3 linked regions of the Homo sapiens genome follow. The protein of the gene in region 1 interacts with the protein of each later gene in a biochemical or structural test. Each region holds a gene or a part of one and is shown on either strand. Other genes may lie near its edges. The genes, in order: ARHGAP26, SRPK1 and RHOA.

The links.
Region 2: of the proteins of ARHGAP26 (region 1) and SRPK1, one has a biochemical effect on the other in vitro, tested with the Homo sapiens proteins (one large-scale study listed by BioGRID and IntAct).
Region 3: of the proteins of ARHGAP26 (region 1) and RHOA, one has a biochemical effect on the other in vitro, tested with the Homo sapiens proteins (one study listed by BioGRID).

The regions. Positions count from the first base shown.
Region 1 is NC_000005.10:142,776,814-142,780,464, reverse strand, and holds part of ARHGAP26 (rho GTPase-activating protein 26), read right to left. Parts: intron 1-3,651. UniProt on the Homo sapiens protein: GTPase-activating protein for RHOA and CDC42. Facilitates mitochondrial quality control by promoting Parkin-mediated recruitment of autophagosomes to damaged mitochondria.
Region 2 is NC_000006.12:35,911,029-35,914,679, forward strand, and holds part of SRPK1 (SRSF protein kinase 1), read right to left. Parts: intron 1-3,651. UniProt on the Homo sapiens protein: Serine/arginine-rich protein-specific kinase which specifically phosphorylates its substrates at serine residues located in regions rich in arginine/serine dipeptides, known as RS domains and is involved in the phosphorylation of SR splicing factors and the regulation of splicing.
Region 3 is NC_000003.12:49,359,828-49,363,478, forward strand, and holds part of RHOA (transforming protein RhoA isoform 1 precursor), read right to left. Parts: intron 2,800-3,651; coding exon 2,669-2,799; intron 1,240-2,668; coding exon of another isoform or gene 1,101-1,239; intron 556-1,100; coding exon 382-555; 3' UTR 1-381. UniProt on the Homo sapiens protein: Small GTPase which cycles between an active GTP-bound and an inactive GDP-bound state.

The sequences.
Region 1 (3,651 bases):
ATCATGGTTTATCAAATTCAGTTCACTTAGAACTTTTCAGAAACACTGTTATGAAATACTTATTAAAATGAAAAATGTACATACCCTTTGGTCCAGCAGTTTCATTTCTAGGAATTTGTCACTCATGTGCCTCATGCCAGAGGTGCCAGGATGTTCACAACAACATTACTTGCAATGGTGAAAGGTTGGAAATAATCTAAATGTTTATTATTAGGGGAATGGTTACATACACTATATTTAATTCATACAATAGAATACAATGCAATCTAACAATGAGTGAGCTCTCTATGTACCAATGTAGAATAATATCTAATATATTAAAAGCAAAGGGTAAAACAGCACATATGGCACAATGTGTATGTGTATTTGTTGGCACATGCATAAATTACATCTGAAAAATACCAAAGAAACCAATAAAATGCCTCCAGAGGAAGAAGTGGGGATCAGGAGACAGGAAGCATTGGAGGGATATTCACATTCTCTTTTGTCTCTTTTGAATTATGAACAACTTATAGGTATTACCTATTTAGGCAACCCTTTTAAAAAGAAACATAGCTATGAGTTAAAGTAAAAATGCCTTATTTTATTTGTTCGACTAATATTCATTGTCTACCCCTGACCCACAAGTGTGATAACGAGATACGCAGTCAGGAATTTGCTAAGGCTTTGGTCCTATCTGTTTGACAGTCTCCTTGGCACAGAAACAGCCAAAGTTCAACTCAGTCAGCTTGGAGATCTATCTGAAGTCTCAGAGGAGGAGGCAGTTCATATTTTCAAAGTGTTCAAATTAGCCTGCAGTAAACTTAAAAGCAGATGTGACAGCAAGATCAGATGAGTTTTGAAACTTACCAGCGGTATCTTTTCAAACCATATAAAATAGGAGTTTTTTGAGCTTTTGCTGTGTGGCAGCAGCAAGAGTCAAAGAGTAGCTACTGGCTTGGCCCAGAGAAACCAGCTAGTTAACAGTTTGGTGTGGAATTCACAAACCCCTCAAACCTTTGTCTATCTGGCAAAGAAAACACACACACACACACACACACCACCCTAACCCCAGGAATCTCCTCTTTCTAAATATAGCAGGAAACTGCCCAGTCTCCAGCTTACCCAGGGCAGCATTCTGTGCCTTCCAATCAAGGTGAAATGAGCCAGACACAAACATGCCATGACAGCTCGTGGCCCACACTGCCAAGCTGTTTTCCTTACCATTTCCTCTCTCTCCATTCTGAGGTGCTACAAAAATGTGTAAACCCCAGTCACTATAATTTGTAAAAATTCCTCTGGCTGCTAATGCTGTTGTTCTCACCCTAAATAAACATGATTTCCTTCCTAGTCCCTGAGCCTGGAGGTTAGAATAGACTCTTAGATATGGGCAAAGCCCCATCCCATCTCCCATCTGACCTATAAGAACATGCCACTCAGAAAGCATATCAAGCAGTTCCAGGGCTAATAGGGACACATCCAATTAATTGTCATCTCTCTTTCCCTGGCACACATACACACACACTAAGTTTTTTTTTTTTTTCTATCCCTTGGTTGTTTTAAAATCAGTGTCAGTGTCTAACAGAAGGGTCTGTTAAGGATGCTTCTGATTTAACCAAAAGATTAAGCTTCAGAAACAATCTAACATACTCAAAGGAGCACCAAATTATCAACCGGCTACAAGGATGCAAAGGACCTAAACAACAGATGTCAAAGGGCTTGTAAAAACTGGAGCCAGCAACCATTCCACTTGAAGGAATCCATCTCAGGGAAATGCTGGAATCCACACACAAAAGCAGGTGTGCAAATAATCACTGCAGCACGCCTTCTAATAGTGAACAACAGAGACAATCCAAATATCCTTCAACAGGAAACTGAGTAAATACCAACTATGGCATATCCACATAAAGCTCTCTGCAGTCATTAAAAAGAATGCACTACATGCATGTACTGACATGGAAGGTCTTCAAGACAAATGATCAACTCGAAAAGCAAAACACAAAATAATCCTTATAGTATAATCCCATTTATGAAAAAAACACGCAGAAAAAGGACAAGAAAAAATGCATACCAAACTGCTAACAATGATTGTTAGCTAGGAAAAGGGGGTGCTTTTACACTGTATACGTCTATACTCTTTGATGCTTGCATGAGAATGTATTCAGGAACTATCCATGTCATAATATTTTGTCTTTGCATTATAAGATTAGGTCATTCATTCATATTGTTAATTTTACCCCTAAACCTAATCCTTCCCAAGCAAACTATTTTAGCAAATAGTACCATCATTCACATAACTGCTCAGGCCAAAAATATCTGAATCATTCTAGACTTCTTTCTTTTCTCTCATAGCCCATATGCTGTGCAGCAAATCCTGTGGGCTCTACTTCCAAAAATACCCAGCCTCTGACCACCATCTGTGATGCTGTCACCCTAGCCCACGGTGCCATCATCTCTCACCTCAACTATTACAACAGCTTCCTTACTGGTCATCTTGCCTCCATTGTTGCTCCACTACGCTTGGTCTCTACACAGCTGCCTACATAATCTTTTTAAAGTATGAGTACGATCATGGCACAGCCTTCCATGGCTGCCCATCACACTTAGAATAAAACTCTAAGTCCTTTCTAGAATTCAAGATCCCTATGACCTTGCCCTGGCCTATCTCTTTGTGCATTCGCCTTCACTCTGCTACAGTCACAACTGGCCGCGCCACTGGCCCCCAAACATCCCACTCAATCTCCCCGCTAATGACTCCTACATTGGTTACCTCCATCCAAAAAGCCATTACTCTAGTCTAGGGCTCTGGAGGACATGGTAAAGGCAGAGCAGGGTCTCCGTATTTCCTGAACGAAACTCTTCTTCTGATGGCAAAAAATATATAATTTGAAACAGAAGGGGTTATAATTTTAAAAGGTAAAACGAGGCTCACTCAGAAACTTAAATCTAGAAAAACTACTTTGACTGCTAGGTTAGTATTCCTCCACTGGCTAATTTTTAGAAATGCAATGACCTTGACAGGATAACAAAGTCCCCTTTACAACTTGCTTTCCCCAGTAGCTCAATGGTGATAACAGTTCTTCCTTGGCCGGTTCTCATTTTGTCCATTGAGAGGGCTTGGATCATTAGCTTATGCAGGCCAGAATTAGGAAGTCCAGCCTGTGTGGCATCTGCCCAGAGCGATGCCCACTGGCCTAACAAGAGCAGAAATCTGAACCACAGCCTCATAAGAACCACTTCCTAATTCCTGAGATCCTGAAACTGATCAGTTAAATACATCTAAGGTTGAAGCACATGGAAACAAATAGTCCCCAAAAGAGGGCAAATGGAGAAAATATACTAAGTGCTGTTCACTTAATCATCAAAAGTTTTATGAGACAAAGTAAAGGAAAAAAAAGATCTGAATAGACATTTCAGCAAAGATGACGCACCAATGGCCAACAAACACATGAAAAGGTGCTCATCCTCATTGGTCACCAGGATAATGCAAATTAAAACCACAACGAGATACCACTTCACACCCACTAGAGTGGCTACAATCAAAAAGAAAGACAACAACAAGTATTGGCGAGGATGTGGAGAAATCAGAATCCTCATACATTGTTGGTGGGAATGTGAAACGGTGCTTCTGTTATGGAAAACAGTATGGTAGGTTTTTTTAAATAAACACAA
Region 2 (3,651 bases), on another chromosome or scaffold:
CTGCAGCCCATGGATCAAGGAGTCATTTCAACTTTCAAGTCTTATTATTTAAGAAATACATTTGATAAGGCAATAGCTACCATAGTGATTCCTCTGATGGGTCTGGGAAAAATCTATTGAAAACCTTCTGGAAAGGATTCACGATTCTATATGCCATTAAGAACAGTCATGGGGAGAGGTAAAAATATCAACATTAACAGGAGTTTGGAAGAAGTTGATTCCAACCCTCATGCATGACTGAAATGTTCAAGACTTCTGTGGAGGAAGTAACTACAGATGTGGTAGAAACAGCAAGAGGACTAGAATTAGACATGGATCCTGAAGATGTGACTAAATTGCTCCAATCTCATAATAAAACTTGAACAGATGAGGAGCTGCTTCTTATGATGAGAAAGTGGTTACTTGGCCGGGCGTGGTGGCTCACGCCTGTAATCCCAGCACTTTGGGAGGCCAAGGTGGGAGGATGGCTTGAGCCCAGGAGTTCAAGACCAGCATGGGCAACATGGTGAGACCCTGTCTCAAAATAACTGATTAGTTTATTAATTAATTTTTTTAAAAAATAAGTTTCTTTCTTTTTTGTTTTTAAGAGCTAAGGTCTCACTATGTTGCCCAGGCTGGCCTTGAACTCCTGGGCCCAAGCAATCCTCCCATCTCGGCCTCCGAAGTAGCTAGGACCACAGGTGCATGCCACCACACCCAGCAGAAAGCGGTTTCTTGAGATGGAATCTACTATTGGTAAAGATGCTGTGAACATTGTTGAAATGACAACAAGGGACTTAGAATATAACATAATCTTAATTTATAAAACAGTAGCACAGTTTGAAAGGACTGACTCCAATTTTGAAATAAGTTCCTCTGTGGGTTAAATACTATCAAACATCATCGCATACTACAGAAAAATCTTTGGGTAAGGGAGGGTCAATAAATGCAGCAAACTTCATTGTTTAAGAAATTGCCACAGCTACTCCAACCTTGAGCAGCCGCCAGATGAGTCAGCAGCCATCAATACTGAGGCAAGACCATAGCTGGGTGCAGTGGTTCACACCCCTAATCCCAACTACTCAGGAGGCTAAGGCAGGAGGACTGCTTGAGGCCAAGAATTCAAGGCCAGCTTGAGGGCAACATAATGAGATTCCATCCCTTAAAAAAAATAAAAAAATAAAAAATAAAAAATGAGCTGGGCATGGTGGCATGTGCCTGTAATCCTAGCTACTTGGGAGACTGATGCAGGAGGAACGCATGCACCCAGGAGTTCGATGCTGCAGTGAGCTATGATAGCACCACTGCACTCCAGCCTGGGCAACAGTACCAGACCCCATCTCCCTTAAACAAAAATTATTATTGAGGCAAGACCTTATACCAGCAAAAAGATTATGACTCACTGAGGGCTCAGATGATCCTTAACATTTTTTAGCAATAACGTATTTTTAAATTAAGGTCTGTACATTTTTAAAAGACATGACGCTACTGCAAAGTTAACAGACTACAGTACAGTGCAAACATAACTTTTATATGCATTGGGAAACAAAAACTTTGTGTGACTCGCTTTGAGGTGGTCTGGAACTGAACGTGAACCCATAGTATCTCCAAAGTATGCCTGTAATACTTTAGCCAATTTAAAAATATCCCCAAACTAGTAACAGTGATAGAGAGGATTTGGAGAGCATGAGCAAAAGAGCTTACCTAAAGTGGGAAAAACCCCACAAAAAAGTGCCAGTTATTCCACAAGGTCTAAATTGATTTTAGTTGATCATCTTTCTTCCCTTCTTTTGGAGACAGGGGTCTTGTTCTGTCACCTAGGCTGGAGTGCAGTGGCATAATCACAGCTCACTGTAGCCTCTACCTCCTGGGCTCAAGAGATCCTCTCACCTCAGTCTCCTGAGTAGCTGGGACTACAGGCACGTGCCACCACACCCAGCTAACTTTTGTGTTTTTAGAAGACAGGATCTTGCCATGTTGCCCAGGCTAATCTCAAGTTCCTGGGCTCAAGGCCTTGGCCTCCCAAAGTGCTGGGATTACAGGCATAAGCCACTGTACCGAGCCTTTTTCACTTTTAGTAAGGGAATTCCTAAGCACCCGCAGCCTTATTCACTTTGGCACTTCAACAAGTTGCTGGTTTCAAGTAATCTAAAGGAAAATGGTAATTTGTCAAGCCTGGGATGCACTGTAGTAGAAACACTAATGTAAATAAAACTTACTAACCAATGAAACTACAGAGGAAGAAGAGAACAAAATATTTTCTGACAAGAGAAGTTCTAGAAATTCAATTTTGCAAGTAAATTTATATTTAAGGGAATCACACACAATTAAAAATGCAAATTTTAAAAAAGATATAACAGTTGACCTTGAGGTAGGAGAATCACTTGAATTCACTTGAATCACTCCAACTCGGGAGGTGGAGGTTGCAGTGAGCCGAGATCGCGCCACTACACTCCCACCTGGGCAACAGAACAAGACCCCGTCTCAAAAAAAAGTAAAAAGCAAAGGAGGCCAGGCACAGTGGCTCACGCCTGTAATTCCAACACTTTGGGAGGCCAGGGTAGGTGATCACCTGAAGTCAGGAGTTTGAGATCAGCCTGGACAACATGGTGAAACCCCGTCTCTACTAAAAATATAAAAATTAGCCAGGTGTGGTGGCACGCACCTGTAATCCCAGCTACTCGGGAGCCTGAGGCAGGAGAATTGCTTGAACCCAGGAGGCGGAAGTTGCAGTGAGCCAAGATCATGCCACTGTACTCCAGTCTGGGTGACAGAGCGAGATTCCATCTCAAAAAAAGAAAAAAAAATAAAAGAGAGAGAAAAAAGAAAAAGCAGAGGAAAAGACAAATTTGCCACGGTTTTAAAAATCAATTTATGTAAAAAGCACACTATAAGTGACATCTGAAGGACCTATAACAAGCTGAGAAATAAAAGTCTGCCGCACAACAAAGGATACTTTCTCTTTTTTTTTTTTTTTTTTTTTTTGAGATGGAGTTTTGCTCTTGTCGCCCAGGCTGGAGTGCAATGGCACGATCTCGGCTCACTGCAACCTCCACCTCCCAGGTTCAAGCAATTCTCCTGCCTCAGCCTCCCAAGTAGCTGGGATTACAGGCATGCACCATGACGCCCGGCTAATTTTTTGTATTTTTAGTAGAGAAGGGGTTTCTCCATGTTGATCAGGCTGGTCTCGAACTCCCGACCTTGGGTGATCCACACGCCTCAGCCTCCCAAAGTGCTGGGATTACAGGCTTGAGTCACCAGACCTGGCTAGGATACATTCTTAATAAAGAGTTCTTAAGATCAAGAAAAAGATCAACAATCTAATATTAAAAATGGGCAAAAAATTCAAAATTACAACAAGGTATTTTATAGATTACCAGATTTGGCAAGATTTTTCAAGTAATATTACCTAGTTCTGGTGGCTTCACAGGAGATACAAGAACACTCCCATTTCCACTGCTTTGCCTAGAGCAGTCCTCTTCCAAGTCTTTGTTCAAATGTCACCTTTTCAGTGTGGCCTCCATCACCCTATTTAAAACTGTAACCTTATCTCCATTTCTCAACCCCCACTTATCTTTCTCTTTTTTCTCCACCTATCACCTAATATACTATTTAATTTACTTATTTATGTCTATTGTTTATTCTGTCTTTCCTCCCACTATAATAATATAG
Region 3 (3,651 bases), on another chromosome or scaffold:
CAGAGTACCTTGCAGCTGACAGATAATAGGCAGGACATGTTAGTTATAAAGTAGTTACAGCCTAATTCACAAAAGTTACCAACTGTTTCTCTTTCTAGAAAGAAGCAAGAAGTTAAGAAATTCCTTGAATTAGCGCCTGGTGTGTCAGGTGGGAGTGCAGAGGAGGGCTGTTAGAGCAGTGTCAAAAGGACCCTGGTGGGCCAGACGGGTTGGACATCGTTAATAATCATAGTTGGCTTCTAAATACTGGTAGCAAGATGACTTCTGATTTGTAATCTTAGGTAAATTATAGATAAATGAAAAAGGCCAGTAATCATACACTAAGATTAATAAACAGCACTTCAAAATTAACCGCATAAGGGCTGTGCTTGCAGCAAGGTTTCACAAGACAAGGCACCCAGATTTTTTCTTCCCACGTCTAGCTTGCAGAGCAGCTCTCGTAGCCATTTCAAAAACCTCTCTCACTCCATCTTTGGTCTTTGCTGAACACTCCATGTACCCAAAAGCGCCAATCCTGTTTGCCATATCTCTGCCTTCTTCAGGTTTCACCGGCTCCTAGCAAAGAAAAAAAAATAGTCCTTTTAGCTAATAGTGTGGCATACATATAGTAAGTAAAAAGTATTCAAATTCATCTAAAAGATTTTTTTTTCTTTTTTTGAGACAGTTTTGCTCGTCGGTCGCCCAGGCTGGAGGGCAATGGCATGATCTCAGCTGACTGCAACCTCCACCTCCTGGGTTCAAGGGATTCTCCCGCCTCAGCCTCCCGAGTAGCTGGGACTACAGGTGCCCACCACCACGCCCAAGTAATTTTTTAGTAGAGATGGGGTTTCACCATTTTGGCCAGGCTGGTCTCGAACTCCTGACCAAGTGATCTGCCCACCTCGGCCTCCCAAAGTGCTGGGATACAGGCATGAGCCACTGTACCCAGCCTAAAAAAAAAAAAGACTTTCAAAAGCTGTTAAACTTGGCTGGGTGTGGTGGCTCACACCTGTAATCCCAGCACTTTGGGAGGCTGAGCTGGGCGGATCACGAGTTTAGGAGATCAAGACCATCCTGGCCAACATGGTGAAACCCCTCTTTACTAAAATACAAAAAATCACCTGGGTGTGGTAGTGGGCGCCTGTAACCCCAGCTACTCAGGAGGCTGAGGCAGGGGAATCGCTTAAATCTGGGAGGCGGAGGTTGCAGTTGAGCCAAGATCGTGCCACAGCACTCCAGCCTGGCGACACAGTGAGGCTCCTTCTCAAAAAAAACAAAACAAAAAAAAAAAACAACAAACTGCTAAACTTATGAAATTTTTAAACTGACATATGGTAACTACCCCCTACCAAACATAAAATCTCTAATAAACATGGTATTCACTGGGAAGTAGAGGGAAGAGGTCAGAGGAGCCCTGGAAGGTTAAGGAGTCAATCAAGAGCAAAATTACTCAAGCTACCAATCCAGGACTAAATGCCCTGAAGGAAATAAAGCCTACCCTTGACATTCAGACAGAGAAACCTGAGTAAGAGAACTTAGGTTGAAGATCTCAATGCTTCTCCTCCAGTGAGGAAGCCCTGCCATTAGGCCAGCTGGTTTCTGAGAGGCCAAGATGCCACATCCATCATCACTTTTAAAAAGGCATTGGGAGTGGAGGAGAGGGAAGGCATTAGGGCTTTCTATCTGGACTCCCAGCCTTCAAGATTTCCTTATCTTTCAGTTGCCACTAATTTATCTTTGGCCTCACATGTACCAAAGTAATAGCTGGGGAAGGCAATCAAGAGTCTAACAGGCCCGGGCGTGGTGGCTCACACCTGTAATCCCAGCACTTTGGGAGGCCAAGGCGGGCAGATCACCTAAGGTCAGGAGTTTGAGACCAGCCTGACCAACATGGAGAAAACCCGTCTCTACTAAAAATACAAAAATTAGCCAGGCGTGGTGGCACATGCCTGTAATCCCAGCAACTTGGGAGGCTGAGGCAGGAGAATCACTTAAACCTTGGAGGCTGAGGTTGCAGCCGAGATAGCATCACTGCATTCCAGCCTGGGTGACAAAAGCAAAACTGTGTCTCAAAAAATAAAAATAAAGAGTCTAACAGAGGCCAGGCACAGTGGCTCACACCTGTAATCCCTGCACTTTGGGAGGCAAAAGTGGGCAGATCACTTGAGGTAAGGAGTTCAAGACCAGCCTGGCCAACAGGGTGAAACCCCATCTATTAAAAAAAAAAAAAATTAGCCGGTCATGGTGGAGGGTGCCTGTAGTCCCAGCTACTCGGGAGTCTGAGGCAGAAGAATCGCTTGAACCCCGGAGGCGGAGGTTGCAGTGAGCTGAGATTGCGCCACTGCACTCCAGCCTGGGTGACAGAATGAGACTCCATATCAAAAAAAAGAAAGTTCCTACATCTAGAGCCACTGATTACTAGCTACTAATGAAATGGTTCATTCTCAGGCCAGCAGTCCTTATGGGCATAGCACTACCTCATAAAAAAACATTCCATCTCACAGGACTGGTGAACTATCTTAGGGATCTTCTGTGAAGATCCCAATTAATGAGGGTCAGAGGGCCACAGAGGGGCTTCTGAGCCTCTAAAACAACCTGGCCTGTGAAGGTTCCTGCTGGGCTCCCCAAACCTCCAAACTTGGGGCCCTAGTTCAAGAATACTACAAGACAGTCCTGCCCCAGATCATGCCTGCTTCATCTTGGCTAGCTCCCGCCTTGTGTGCTCATCATTCCGAAGATCCTTCTTATTCCCAACCAGGATGATGGGCACGTTGGGACAGAAATGCTTGACTTCTGGGGTCCACTTTTCTGGGATGTTTTCTGAAAGAAAAATGTAGAGAATTTGGGGATACATACAATTCTATCTTGAAGACTTTCCAAGAACCTCAGTGAAATTGCAGAGACACTTTCTTTGTGGCTTCAGAAAAATGCTAGACATTTAATGAAACTCACTAGTTTCAAAACCATAAAAAGGAAATATAATCCCTTTCCTTTAAACAGAGAACCAACAGCTTTTTCTCAGTCCAGCCAAGAGTGGTGCTGAGCATCTCTGTAGGTGGGGCCCGAGTAAGGGCTCTGGAGGAGCAAAAGATCCACAACACAAGGTAGTTTCACGGGGGGCACTTCCTGCCCCACAAAGGCAGGCACTTTACAGGACATCTGTCACTGCTGGTAGATGATTCTGACATAGCTTACAGAAGGGGTCCCCATTCTAGGGCAGCAGCTGACCCAGGGTCCACATGTTCTTTTTCTAACTTGTTCATCAACTCTCAGCATAACTTCTACCCTATGGGGTTTACTGGTATTTCAAATGGCTGAAGAGTGACTTTTGGCCGGGAGCGGTGGCTCATGCCTGTAATCCCAGCACTTTGGGAGGCCAAGGTGGGCGGATCATGAGGTCAGGAGATCGAGACCATCCTGGCTAACACAGTGAAACCCCGTCTCTACTAAAAATACAAAAAAAATTAGCCGGGTGTAGTGGTGGGCACCTGTAGTCCCAGCTATTCAGGAGGCTGAGGCAGGAGAATGGTGTGAACCCGGGAGGCAGAGCTTGCCATGAGCTGAGATCGCGCCACTGCACTCCTGGGCGACAGAGCAAGACTCCGTCTCAAATAAAAAAAAGTGACTTTTGAAAATAACCAAAAGAGGCTGGGCGTGGTGACTCATACTTGT